3 linked regions of the Homo sapiens genome follow. The protein of the gene in region 2 purifies or fractionates together with the protein of the main gene of each other region. This does not show direct contact. Each region holds a gene or a part of one and is shown on either strand. Other genes may lie near its edges. The genes, in order: RABGGTA, RAB6B and MTMR1.

The links.
Region 1: the proteins of RAB6B (region 2) and RABGGTA purify together in Homo sapiens (co-immunoprecipitation; 3 studies listed by BioGRID and IntAct, with this or other methods). This does not show direct contact.
Region 3: the proteins of RAB6B (region 2) and MTMR1 purify together in Homo sapiens (co-immunoprecipitation; 3 studies listed by BioGRID and IntAct, with this or other methods). This does not show direct contact.

What each region holds. Positions count from the first base shown.
Region 1 is NC_000014.9:24,265,036-24,268,742, reverse strand, and holds the end of RABGGTA (geranylgeranyl transferase type-2 subunit alpha), read left to right. Parts: coding exon 1-18; intron 19-123; coding exon 124-229; intron 230-322; coding exon 323-374; intron 375-544; coding exon 545-633; intron 634-784; coding exon 785-873; intron 874-966; coding exon 967-1,083; intron 1,084-1,853; coding exon 1,854-1,967; intron 1,968-2,225; coding exon 2,226-2,313; intron 2,314-2,979; coding exon 2,980-3,128; 3' UTR 3,129-3,205; downstream 3,206-3,707. UniProt on the Homo sapiens protein: Catalyzes the transfer of a geranylgeranyl moiety from geranylgeranyl diphosphate to both cysteines of Rab proteins with the C-terminal sequence -XXCC, -XCXC and -CCXX, such as RAB1A, RAB3A, RAB5A and RAB7A.
Region 2 is NC_000003.12:133,840,279-133,843,925, reverse strand, and holds part of RAB6B (ras-related protein Rab-6B), read left to right. Parts: intron 1-2,262; coding exon 2,263-2,316; intron 2,317-2,535; coding exon 2,536-2,641; intron 2,642-3,647. UniProt on the Homo sapiens protein: The small GTPases Rab are key regulators of intracellular membrane trafficking, from the formation of transport vesicles to their fusion with membranes. Rabs cycle between active GTP-bound and inactive GDP-bound states.
Region 3 is NC_000023.11:150,759,249-150,762,501, reverse strand, and holds part of MTMR1 (phosphatidylinositol-3-phosphate phosphatase MTMR1), read right to left. Parts: intron 1-3,253. UniProt on the Homo sapiens protein: Lipid phosphatase that specifically dephosphorylates the D-3 position of phosphatidylinositol 3-phosphate, generating phosphatidylinositol. Could also dephosphorylate phosphatidylinositol 3,5-bisphosphate to produce phosphatidylinositol 5-phosphate.

The sequences.
Region 1 (3,707 bases), on a different chromosome or scaffold from region 2:
CGGCCCAGCCATGTCTGGGTATCCCAGGATTGGTGGGGCAGAAGTTGGGGTCTGGGGCAGGGCTGGGTGGGACAGTCAAAAAAGTGGTTAGGCTGGGGCATTTCCTTGACCCAGTACTCCCAGCTCTGTGACCTGCCTGCTGCCTCCCTCAACGACCAGTTGCCCCAACATACATTTCGCGTCATTTGGACAGCAGGCGATGTCCAGAAAGAATGCGTGCTTTTAAAAGGTGATGGAACCTGCAGCCTCCACCCCTTGCAGCAGCCCCCATCACTCTTTTCCTCTCAAGGGTGCACCCTCCAACCACCTACTCTTTCCCCAGGCCGCCAGGAGGGCTGGTGCCGGGACTCCACGACAGACGAGCAGCTATTCAGGTGGTGATAGGGAAGCACAAAACAAGGAGAGGGGCTCTGGACTCTGGGCATCAGGCAGCCAGGGCAGGAGGCTGGGGCCTCAAGGAGCTGTTTCAGTCTAGATACTGGGAATGTTGACCAGTGCTTCAGGGCTGTGGGCCTCAACTCCTCCCCACCCTGCCCACCCTCAGGTGTGAGCTGTCAGTGGAGAAGTCCACAGTGCTGCAGTCTGAGCTGGAATCCTGTAAGGAGCTGCAGGAGCTGGAGCCTGAGAATAAATGTGAGGCCCCATTCCGTGAGAGTCTGCTCCCAGAGCCCGCTGAGGAAACCCCTTTCCAGTGTGGCCCTGAGAGGACAGCAGGAAGGCCTCAGGAGGATGGGAGCAGAGGAGGTTCCAAGAGAAACCCTCCTTTTCCCTGCCCTCTCCTCAGGGTGCCTGCTTACCATCATCCTGCTGATGCGGGCACTGGACCCCCTGCTGTATGAGAAGGAGACCCTGCAGTACTTCCAGACCCTCAAGGCAAGTTCTGTCTGCAGAACAGACCAGGGGGAGGCCCAGCAGGCAGGAGGCAGGCAGCTGACATGCATACCCTGCCCACCTCATCCACTCCAGGCCGTGGACCCCATGCGGGCAACGTATCTGGATGACCTGCGCAGCAAGTTCTTGCTGGAGAATAGCGTGCTCAAGATGGAGTATGCCGAGGTGCGTGTGCTGCACCTGGCTCACAAGGTATGGGCTGCCATGCATGCCTTCCCCTGGCCCTCATCCCGCTGGCCTCCCCACGTCCCTGACTTTGCCCCCAGTCTCAGGTGCCTTTGTGGACTTCCAATCAAGATAGAGTTCATCCCTGCCTCCCAGCTTGCTCCTCTTCCAGGCCTTTCTGTCACTCAGCCCATTCTTCTTCTTGCCACTCACTTTCAAATCCCGAGTCACCAGGACCTCCTTGTGCTGTTTCTTCCCCAGGCTGGTCACAGCTTCATCTTCCTTCAGAGTGACCGCTAGCCCACTCCTCCCACACATTCCAGCACATCTCACCCTGGAGCAACCTCCAATACCTGAAGGCCAAATACTTTCCAGAGATTCCTGAGAAGTTGTCCAGGCTCCACTTTCCTAGTCCTTCCCAACACATTAGTTTTATCACATCACCACAGCCCACCTCCATTCCTGCCAAACTCATCTCTGCCTCATCAGGACCAGTCCCCATGGGGGACCAGTCTTTGTTTACCCAGCACCCTCCACTGGCCCCTGTACCTCCGAACTCCAGGCCTCCTCCTCCTCACCCACCCCACTGGTTACCCCACTCGCAGCACTGTCTGTCCCACGTCATGTACTGCTGTGGGCTGTAAGGTCAGCTTCCCACATGCTCCCATCCTCTTCTTGGCTGGGGTCCCCAAGGGCCTGTGGGGCACAGAGGGCATGTGCCTAATAAATGCTGGCCGAGGACCCTCTCCCAGGTCTCCTGGGAAGCCCATCACCTCCTTCCTCCCTTCACCCCCCAGGATCTGACAGTGCTCTGCCATCTGGAACAGCTGCTCTTGGTCACCCATCTTGACTTGTCACACAATCGCCTCCGAACCCTGCCACCTGCACTGGCTGCCCTGCGCTGCCTTGAGGTAAAGTACCCATGTCTCCGTCCCTGTCACGGGTGGTTCTTTTCCTCTTCCTCTCCCTCAGAAGTCTGCCCATCCTACAAGGAGATGTGCAGGACCCTCCACCCCGAACAGGTAACTGCGTGCCTTCCACCTCCATCACGCAGCCTGACCCTGTGAGCCCCTCTGTGCTCTGTGGACCCGTCACCCTGAGCTCCTCAGTTGCTGAACCATCCCTGGCTGACAGCGCCTGTCCTGCCTCCCTGCCCTCCCTGCCCCCAGGTGCTGCAGGCCAGTGATAATGCCATAGAGTCCCTGGACGGCGTCACCAACCTACCCCGGCTGCAGGAGCTGCTACTGTGCAACAACCGTATCCTTCCTTCTGGGTGCCTTTCAGACAGTGGGTAAAGTGAGGTGCCACCCTGGGAAGGGACAGACAGCAGGCAGGGTATGTGCCACCCTCTTGCAGGGCAGGAGAGAGGGGGCTCTGTAGTGTGAGTTGAAGGGGGAGAGCCTGGGGCTGTCGGGCTATCACTGACCTGCACTGGTGGAGTTGTGCGGAGTGGACTTCCTCAAGTCAGAGTTCACAAATGGGCAGCCCGCAGCTGTTCTTCAGGTCTATGTAGTTTTTTGAAAATCAGGAACTTTCATACTTTAAAAAACATCTAGAGTTCTAATTCCTCTCTTAAAAATTGGAAGTTAGAGCAACCTTACACTGGTATTTTCACTCAGCAGCCCTTGGTCATTGCTGAATAGTAAATGTCTCTTTGGACCAGGCTAGATTTCCACCTTATCATACCCTGCACCACTCCCCTGATACTACACCAGCTTGCGTGGGGTGTTGCGGCTCATTCTTTCCTGGCTGACCCTGTGGGTAGGCATTTGCAGTCCCTGCCTAGAGCCTGACTCCCTCCAGGGAGCATATGAGATGCCCATCAAACAGACTTCCAGGCAGCAGTCCCCAGCTCTTGAGGGTACACAGGAGCAAATAAATTGGGAGGAACCTGCCAAGCTTTCCTTGACTCTCCTGAACAAGGCCTCCAGCAGCCTGCAGTGCTCCAGCCTCTTGCCTCCTGCCCCAGGCTGGTCCTCCTCAACCTGCAGGGTAACCCGCTGTGCCAAGCGGTGGGCATCTTGGAGCAACTGGCTGAACTGCTGCCTTCAGTTAGCAGCGTCCTCACCTAAGAGGCCCTGCCCCCTACCCTTGCCCTTTAACTTATTGGGACTGAATAAAGAATGGAGAGGCCCTCTCAGGCTACCAAGCTGTTGTCGCTGCTATCACTACACCACCACCTTCATCACTTTTATTTTTTGAAAAGAAAGGGAAGAGACATGGGGTGTTGCCAGCTCCTTCTTTCTGCGCCATCCTATTGTTTCCTCTCAGAGAGAGCCAAGGCTTCAGTGTTTGGGGCAGAATTCAGGGTGAAGGCTGAGCTTTTGTTTACCTTCTGGTTTGGGGTGGGGGCTGGGACTGGGTCTAGATTCCAAGCAGGAATAGGGCTTGGGCTCAGGTTCTGGCTCTGGTAAGCTACAGAGCAGCTGTGAGTTTCTCCAGCTGGAAGCATCATACAATTTTTTCCCATGACCCCTGCACCTTCCACATGTTCCCCCTGCCCTGGCCCCCATTCACCATAGCTGGGGAGGCTCAAGGGCTCCACGTTCCCAGGAATGGGCCAGGGTGTCCTTGCTCCGTCCTGCCTGAACAACACTATCGGTCCCCATGAGTAGCATTCTACGGTTGAAGTACCTTTGAGAATACTTGAT
Region 2 (3,647 bases):
CCAGCGCTGCTGAAGTAGCTCCTCAGGGTCAGGGAGTCAGCCTTCGTTGATGTCATCGCTCCTCTGTCATCCTCATCTGGATGGGCCACTATGACTCATCCCCACCGGACAGTGGGAAAGGGAGCAGCTGTGGGTACTCCCTACCCACAGAGGACCTGACCCCAAAGATGCCTACATCACGTTCACATCCCATTAACCAGAATGTAGCCGCCCAGCTGCAAAGAAGGCTGGGAAATATGTTCTTTATTTGGGGCAGCCCTGAGTCCATCTGCACACCCAGAATTCTGTTACTATAGAAAGGGAAACTACATACTGGGGACAACCAGCAGTCCCTGCCACCAGTCCTAAGCTCATGCACCTGGTTTTAGTTCAAAGGTGACTCTACAAAAGGAGCATGTCACTCCTGGGGAGCCTGTTGAGCATTGAGGAGTTGAGAGACTTCTACCTGCTATGCACATTTCTCCATAAGGGAATCAGAAGACAAGGATTGTCAATCTAACATACACCTGTGAAGGAAAAAGTCTGCATCCACAAGCACTGGTCATTGCAGATTTGTGCCTCGGTGGCTACACTATGCGAAGCTGTGGTAGAAAGAGCCCAGGTGCTGCCAAGTTTGCAGCTCTGATCTTCCCAGCCCTGCTACTGATGAGTGAAGTCACACTAGGCATGTCCTTTAACCCTCTGGTCTGTTCTTTCATCTCCAAAGTAAGGGATTGATTGGATTGTATCTAAGGTGTTTTGTCTAGTGCCCACATTCTAGCATCGTATGCTCCAGAGCGTAGAATGACCCCCCATATCTTTGTGTTATGAGGCAAGCTTCCAGGAGGGTGCAAGCCAGTCTCAGTCCTTTGTGGAACGAGTTGGGAGTGTGACTGTGTAAACATGCACACTTGTGCACACACATTGGTGCATACCTTTGCATTCAGCCTGGGGGGACTGGAGATATGACCTTTTCTATTTTCTTGGGCTTCCTTTGGTTGTGTTTTTTGCAGTCAAAAATCATGGCATTCCACACAATTAAACTTATTTATTAAACTTTATTTCAAAGGACTTTTTCTAATTTTAGTACTGTTATATGTTCATTGTGGAAAGTAGAGAAAAGTGTAATGAAGGAGTGTAATGAAGGAAAGAAAATGCTCTGTCACTATTCAGACCGTGATGCTATTAACATGTTAGCAGATTCCCTTCACTTCAGTGTCTAAGAAAACATGAAAAATACTCATAGATCTATTTGAGTTAATCTAATTGGGATCACTCGCCACATGATGTTTTATAACCTGTTTTTTGTTTATTTGTTTTTTTAACTGGATAACCGTTTCCCCAAATCCTTAAATATTTTTTCAAGAATGTGATTGTTAACAGCTGCCAAGGGTTCTAATCACATGGATATACCACACTATGCTTATTTAGTGCCGTGGACATTCAGGCTGTGTCCAAGTCTTTGTTATTATTGATTACATAGCAGTGATATCTCCATTTTACATTGACAGCATCTCAGTCCTACTGACAGGTACCGGGTGCCTGTGAGGCCCAGAGAGGTTGGTTGCCTGCCCAAGGCCACACAGCAAGTGAGTGGTGGGTCCTGGCCATCTGGCCACAAGGCTGGCTGCCTCTCACAGGTGCCAGGGCAGAAGAGGCATAGGTGTGGCACAGGGGAGCTGGTGACAGCTTCCAATGTTTTGGCTTGGGGAGAAAAGAGCCAGTGGGGCCTCCCAGCGAGAGGCCACTCTGGGTGGTCTGCAGTGCCCGCACCTGAGAAAAGCCATGCTGCTGTTTGCACCCACACAGCAGCAAGCTGCCTGCTCCTGCCCCCTGCCTCCCACCCTCCCGAGGTCAGTGTTGAGCCCAGGCCCATGCTTTAGGGCAGAGGGAAGAGGCTTTGGAAGCTGCAGGTTAGGCCATGAAGGGAACAAGGCAGGGAGTCCAGGTGGGGAGGGCAGGATATGTGCGTTGAGTGGCCTGAGTGGCCTTGCTCCTGGGGAGGCCTCCTCACCACTGCGCTCTCACTGCTTCTGAAGCACTTGCCCTCTCCAGAGAAGATCTCACCCTATAAAGGCCACCCTCATCTTTCCTCAGCTTGATCCCTCAGTGAGAGAGCCGCTGAGTGGTAGCAGGGAGGGGCAGGGAGGACAGAGCATGGCCACATTAGACCTGACATGAGCGTCCCCTCTTGCTGGTTATGCCACCACCTGTGGTCGCTAGGCTTTTGCCCCTTTGCATGAGACCTTTTGATTTTGACCGTTCTGTGCTTTTCTCTAACAGGCAACCATTGGGATTGACTTCTTGTCAAAAACCATGTACTTGGAGGACCGCACGGTGAGCACCTAATATCAGGACTGGGAGGGGCAGGGAGGGTTCCTTTGGGCTTATCCCCTAGGACCCTTAGCTGGGCACCACTGAGAGCACCTGCCGACACTAGGGGCTGGAGCTGGTGATGCCAGCATTGCAGAGCCCGGCTCTCCCAGTCCCCCGGACCAGGAGGACCTCACTGCCCCACTGACCCCTCTGCCCATGGTCCTGCCCTCCCTGAGACAGGTGCGACTGCAGCTCTGGGACACAGCTGGTCAGGAGAGGTTCCGCAGCCTGATCCCCAGCTACATCCGGGACTCCACGGTGGCTGTGGTGGTGTACGACATCACAAGTGAGTGAGGCTCTGCTCCTAAGGGAGGGTGGCTCATAGGGGGTCCAGGGCCCAGGTGTGACCCTGGCCAGGCCTGTGTGCATGTGTGTGCACACGCATGTGTGTGCACACGCATGTGTGTGCGATTGCTCCCTGAATGCAGAAAGGCAGGGAGCAGTGGTGAGTTGCCTTTGAACACCAACATGGTTTCCACTGCTCCCCACCCTCCTGCAACCGACAGGGGTTTATAGGGCCAGGTTGGTCCTGCTCGGAGTGGAGGCCAGCTTGTGGTGTGAGCAGATGCTCACAAGGTTGGCCCTGCTCCAGCCTCTCTGCACCCTCCCTCTCCCTGGCTGTCAGAAAGCTCCCTAAGGAGCTACTTCTATATGTGTGTCACCATGGGAGAAGACGCTGGTCCCTAGGCCAACCCCGGCCCAGCAGCTGTGGGTGCAGGACTCCCTGGGAAGGTAGGCAAGGGGGTCTGGAAGCGCAGTAGGCTGGTAACCCTTCTCCAGTACTGTGGCTCTTCAGGCCAGGGCAGGTGTTCTTAACAGGACTGCACAGCCTCAAGGGCGCACAGGGCCAGAGGTGGGGGTGGGGGGCCGAGGCAGAGGCCAGACCTGCAAGGCTCTTGTAATGGAACACACCTGATAAGCCCTCAGGGCTGTGGTTACCCTGAAGTGGGCGAATGCCCTAGGTGCTGTCCACAGCCTTAAAAATCACACAAGGAAGCATGCATGTCCCCGCGCTGGTGCATGCCCCCGCCACCCAGCCTGCTGCCCTGGCTCTGCCCACCCCTTCTGTCCACCTCTCTTCTGACCACAGGCCCCCTCCACACCTGAGTGCAGGTGGGAGCTGGGCCCGCAAGGGCCTGGGTTCACATGGCCTGAGGCACATCAGAAGGGATACCAGGCTGTGTGAAACTGAGGCTTCTGAGGACAGCTACCTCCCCTCCCCTTGGGTGTGCAGGCTGCCGAGTGGTGGGTATTGCCTTATAGCTGCTCTGCCCTGCAAGGCCTATCATGGC
Region 3 (3,253 bases), on a different chromosome or scaffold from region 2:
GAGATGCTGTTGGCTTCAGGAGCTTTTCACCATCCAGACTCCTGGAGCGGCCAAAGTCTCCTGAGGCGTTGACCGATCTCGCGTCAGGTGGACAATGGGACCCCATCCCATGAGCTTTGGCTGCCACTGAGGCCGCCCTGCAGCTCCGGGGGCCGAGCCGCTGAGCCGGGATGAAAAGGCACCATGGGGAGGCTCCCACAGTTTCTCAGAAGACAAGCAGGCACGGGGACACTGCGCACCATGGATCAACCGAGGGCGCCGTGTGCAGACTCGGCACGAGCAGTGTCCTAAAGACTGTGCGTCAGAAATGTTTCCACGCAGACCCCTTTCCAGCATCTCCATTATCTCTGTATTTTTGCATTTTTATAAATAGCTCTGCTGACTGAAAATCCTTCTGTTAAATCAGCACTTTTTACAACTTGAAGCTGTGTTTTCATCAACCGGAGCAGGATCTGCCAGAAGCCCCCCGGAGCGGGCAGTGCCGGCAGGGGGGTGGGGAGCCTCCCCAAGGACCAACCCCTCCCTCCTTGCTCAGCATCACCGCAAGGCCTCACCTTTAATTAGCTTTTCTCTTTTAAACCCATCAACTGTGGGGCAGGGGTGAATATAAACAAGAAAGGTTTTCCCGGGGCATATGGGACATCCAGTCCTGCTATTTTATAGTCATAGCACCCAACCCACTCGCCTAACAAGCTGTCCCCAGCAGCTACTAGGAGGCCAGACATCCGAGACCCAGCTTTTCTCACCTGGAGCTCTTTGGCTGGGGGCAAGGCTGACCAGAGTGAGGGGTCACCGACTGGGCTGAGGGAGAAACAGGGTGGGGTCTGGGGAGCTCCCTAGCCTTCCCTTGTCTCTGATCCCATGTGTAAACAGCAGCCACAGGGCTGGCTCCTAAGCCTCAGCCAGGCCATGTGACTGGCCACTTAACACCTTCCAGGGACTTCTTCCCCCTGCCCTGAGAGGGGCCTCGAGGCCCTCTGCAGTCTGGCCCCAGCCTGGCCCTCTGGCTCATCTTTCACCAGGTCCTTCCCCCACTCCCTCAAAGACTGAGCTGTTCCACCGTGTGTGCCAATGGTGATCAGCCCTCCTGGAGGGAAGGGGGAGACGGAAGGAGGATGAGAGCGAGACCGCAAGGGGGCAGCCAGGTCCCTCTAATAACAAGGTGCTCAGTAACCAGCACCCAGTGGGCTGAGAAGAAATGACCCCCTTGGGCAGGCCACAGGAAGAACAGAGGGGACAGGAGTGGAGTGTGATGGCAAAGGCAGATCCCACAGGCCTCTGGGAGGTGGCACCAGCTCCTCTCTTACCCTTAGGACCCATCTGGCATGCGTTTTCCTGTCTGTAGGATCATTTAATTCTGATCAGACAAGGGACGCCTTGCAATCAAGTTCCCATTATCCATCTACAGGCATGTGACCTCAGCAAGAAGCAAGACACGCAGGGAAATACACCACTGACACACACCCAGGGCAGACCCAGCACTGCTCAAACGCACCACTATCATCTCTTCACCAGCTGTTTGCATCTTTTCTCACCTATTTCTTTTCTTTTTCTTTTTTTTTTTTTTTTTGAGGCGGAATGCAGTCTCACTCTCTCCCCCAGGCTGGAGTGCAGCGGCACGATCTCAGCTCACTGCAACCTCCGCCTCCCGAATTCAAGCGATTCTCCTGCCTCAGCCTCCTGAGCAGCTGGGATTACAGGCGCCCGCCACCACTGTGTCTGGCTAATTTTTGTATTTTTAATAGAGATGAGGTTTCACTATGTTGGCCAGGCTAGTCTCGAACTCCTGATCTCAAGTGATCTGCCCGCCTTGGCCTCCCAAACTGCTGGGATTACAGGCGTGAGCCACCGCGCCTGGCCTACTCACATATTTTCATTTGCAACAAATCAAGGGCATGCCTGAAGGAATAGAAAACTCGGAGGCTTAAACAGAGGATTGTGTTAGAGAAAATTCCCATCTAAGGGCCAGTCATGTTTGCCGCATGGGTACTAGCATCACAAGACATAAGGCAAGACAGTCCCAAAGGAAATAGGACGCCCCTGGGCCTTCCACACCCAGCCATCCTCTGATGGATGCCCAAAGAACCCCTTTCTCGGCAGCCAATCGAGCCACTGCCTTCTCAGAGAAAAGAGGCCCAACAGGCTTGCATCTGCCCTGTCGTTTACCCCCCTGCACTCCCTCCCCTCCCCTCTCTTCCTCCTTCTCTCTGCCTCACCTGGCTCCTCAGGCCCTGTCACTGGACACCCACACCAGCCACTGATCTCTGCCTGTCTTCAATGCACTCCCCCACCCCCATTCCCACACCTAGGAGGTGTCCGACACATGCCTGTTGCATACAGGATAACAAGCTGCGGCCCATGTACTCTTTTTTGGTTCTCTCTTCTGTGTAGCACAATGGAGGGAGAATGCAAAAAGCAGGACCACACACCTACTACCCTCCGAGCACAGTGCACTTGGAATGGATTCACTTCCTGCTCAGCAACCCCCTGTGAGGTCCCCGTGAGGCTCAGGACCCTGCTGCAGATCAGGCGGTGAGTCACTGCCAGAGACGGGATCTGGCCCTGTCGGGGGCATCCTTCCACAACTACACGCACTGGGCAGCAAGATTTCAACCAAGTCACTGCTTCTCTGACCCTTCCCTCATTCTCTACGTCGTGGAATTGCTGGGAGCGTTAACTGGGATCATGTGTGTACAGAACCCACTGGCACACAAGAGGACTGCAGGTTATAGGCGCTGTCGCTGTGGTTTCCATCATCATCATGATGTTGCAGGTGGCTTCGCCTACATGAGTGAGAACCTGACCACATCTGGGAACAGATCTGTCGCGCAGTTTGTAGGTTTTAGGAAAGGTCTGTTACCTGCCTCACGCGGCGGGCAAGAATCTGAGCCTGGGTGCACCCCTGTGGGACACCACTCTAACCCTCTCTGCTGGTTCAGCATTTCTTCACCTCTGCAACCTGCTGCACAAGGGGGAGCGTGGCAGGGGTACGGGGGTCTCCTGCAGTAATCGAGAGGCTCTGTTTAGCCAAAGGCACTCCAGATCAGGCATGGTTCTGTTGGATTTTCTGCTAATGTTCATGACACTCCACCAACCACCCGGGCCTTTGAGTCACCAAGAATATCACCTGGTAACCCTATGTGATTTCAGTAACATAGTGACTTCTGACACTCTGTAGCCCATCTTCCCTGTTGCCAAAATAGATGAAATAGAAGCCACCCAGGACAGAATAACTCAGCAAGATGCCTAAGTA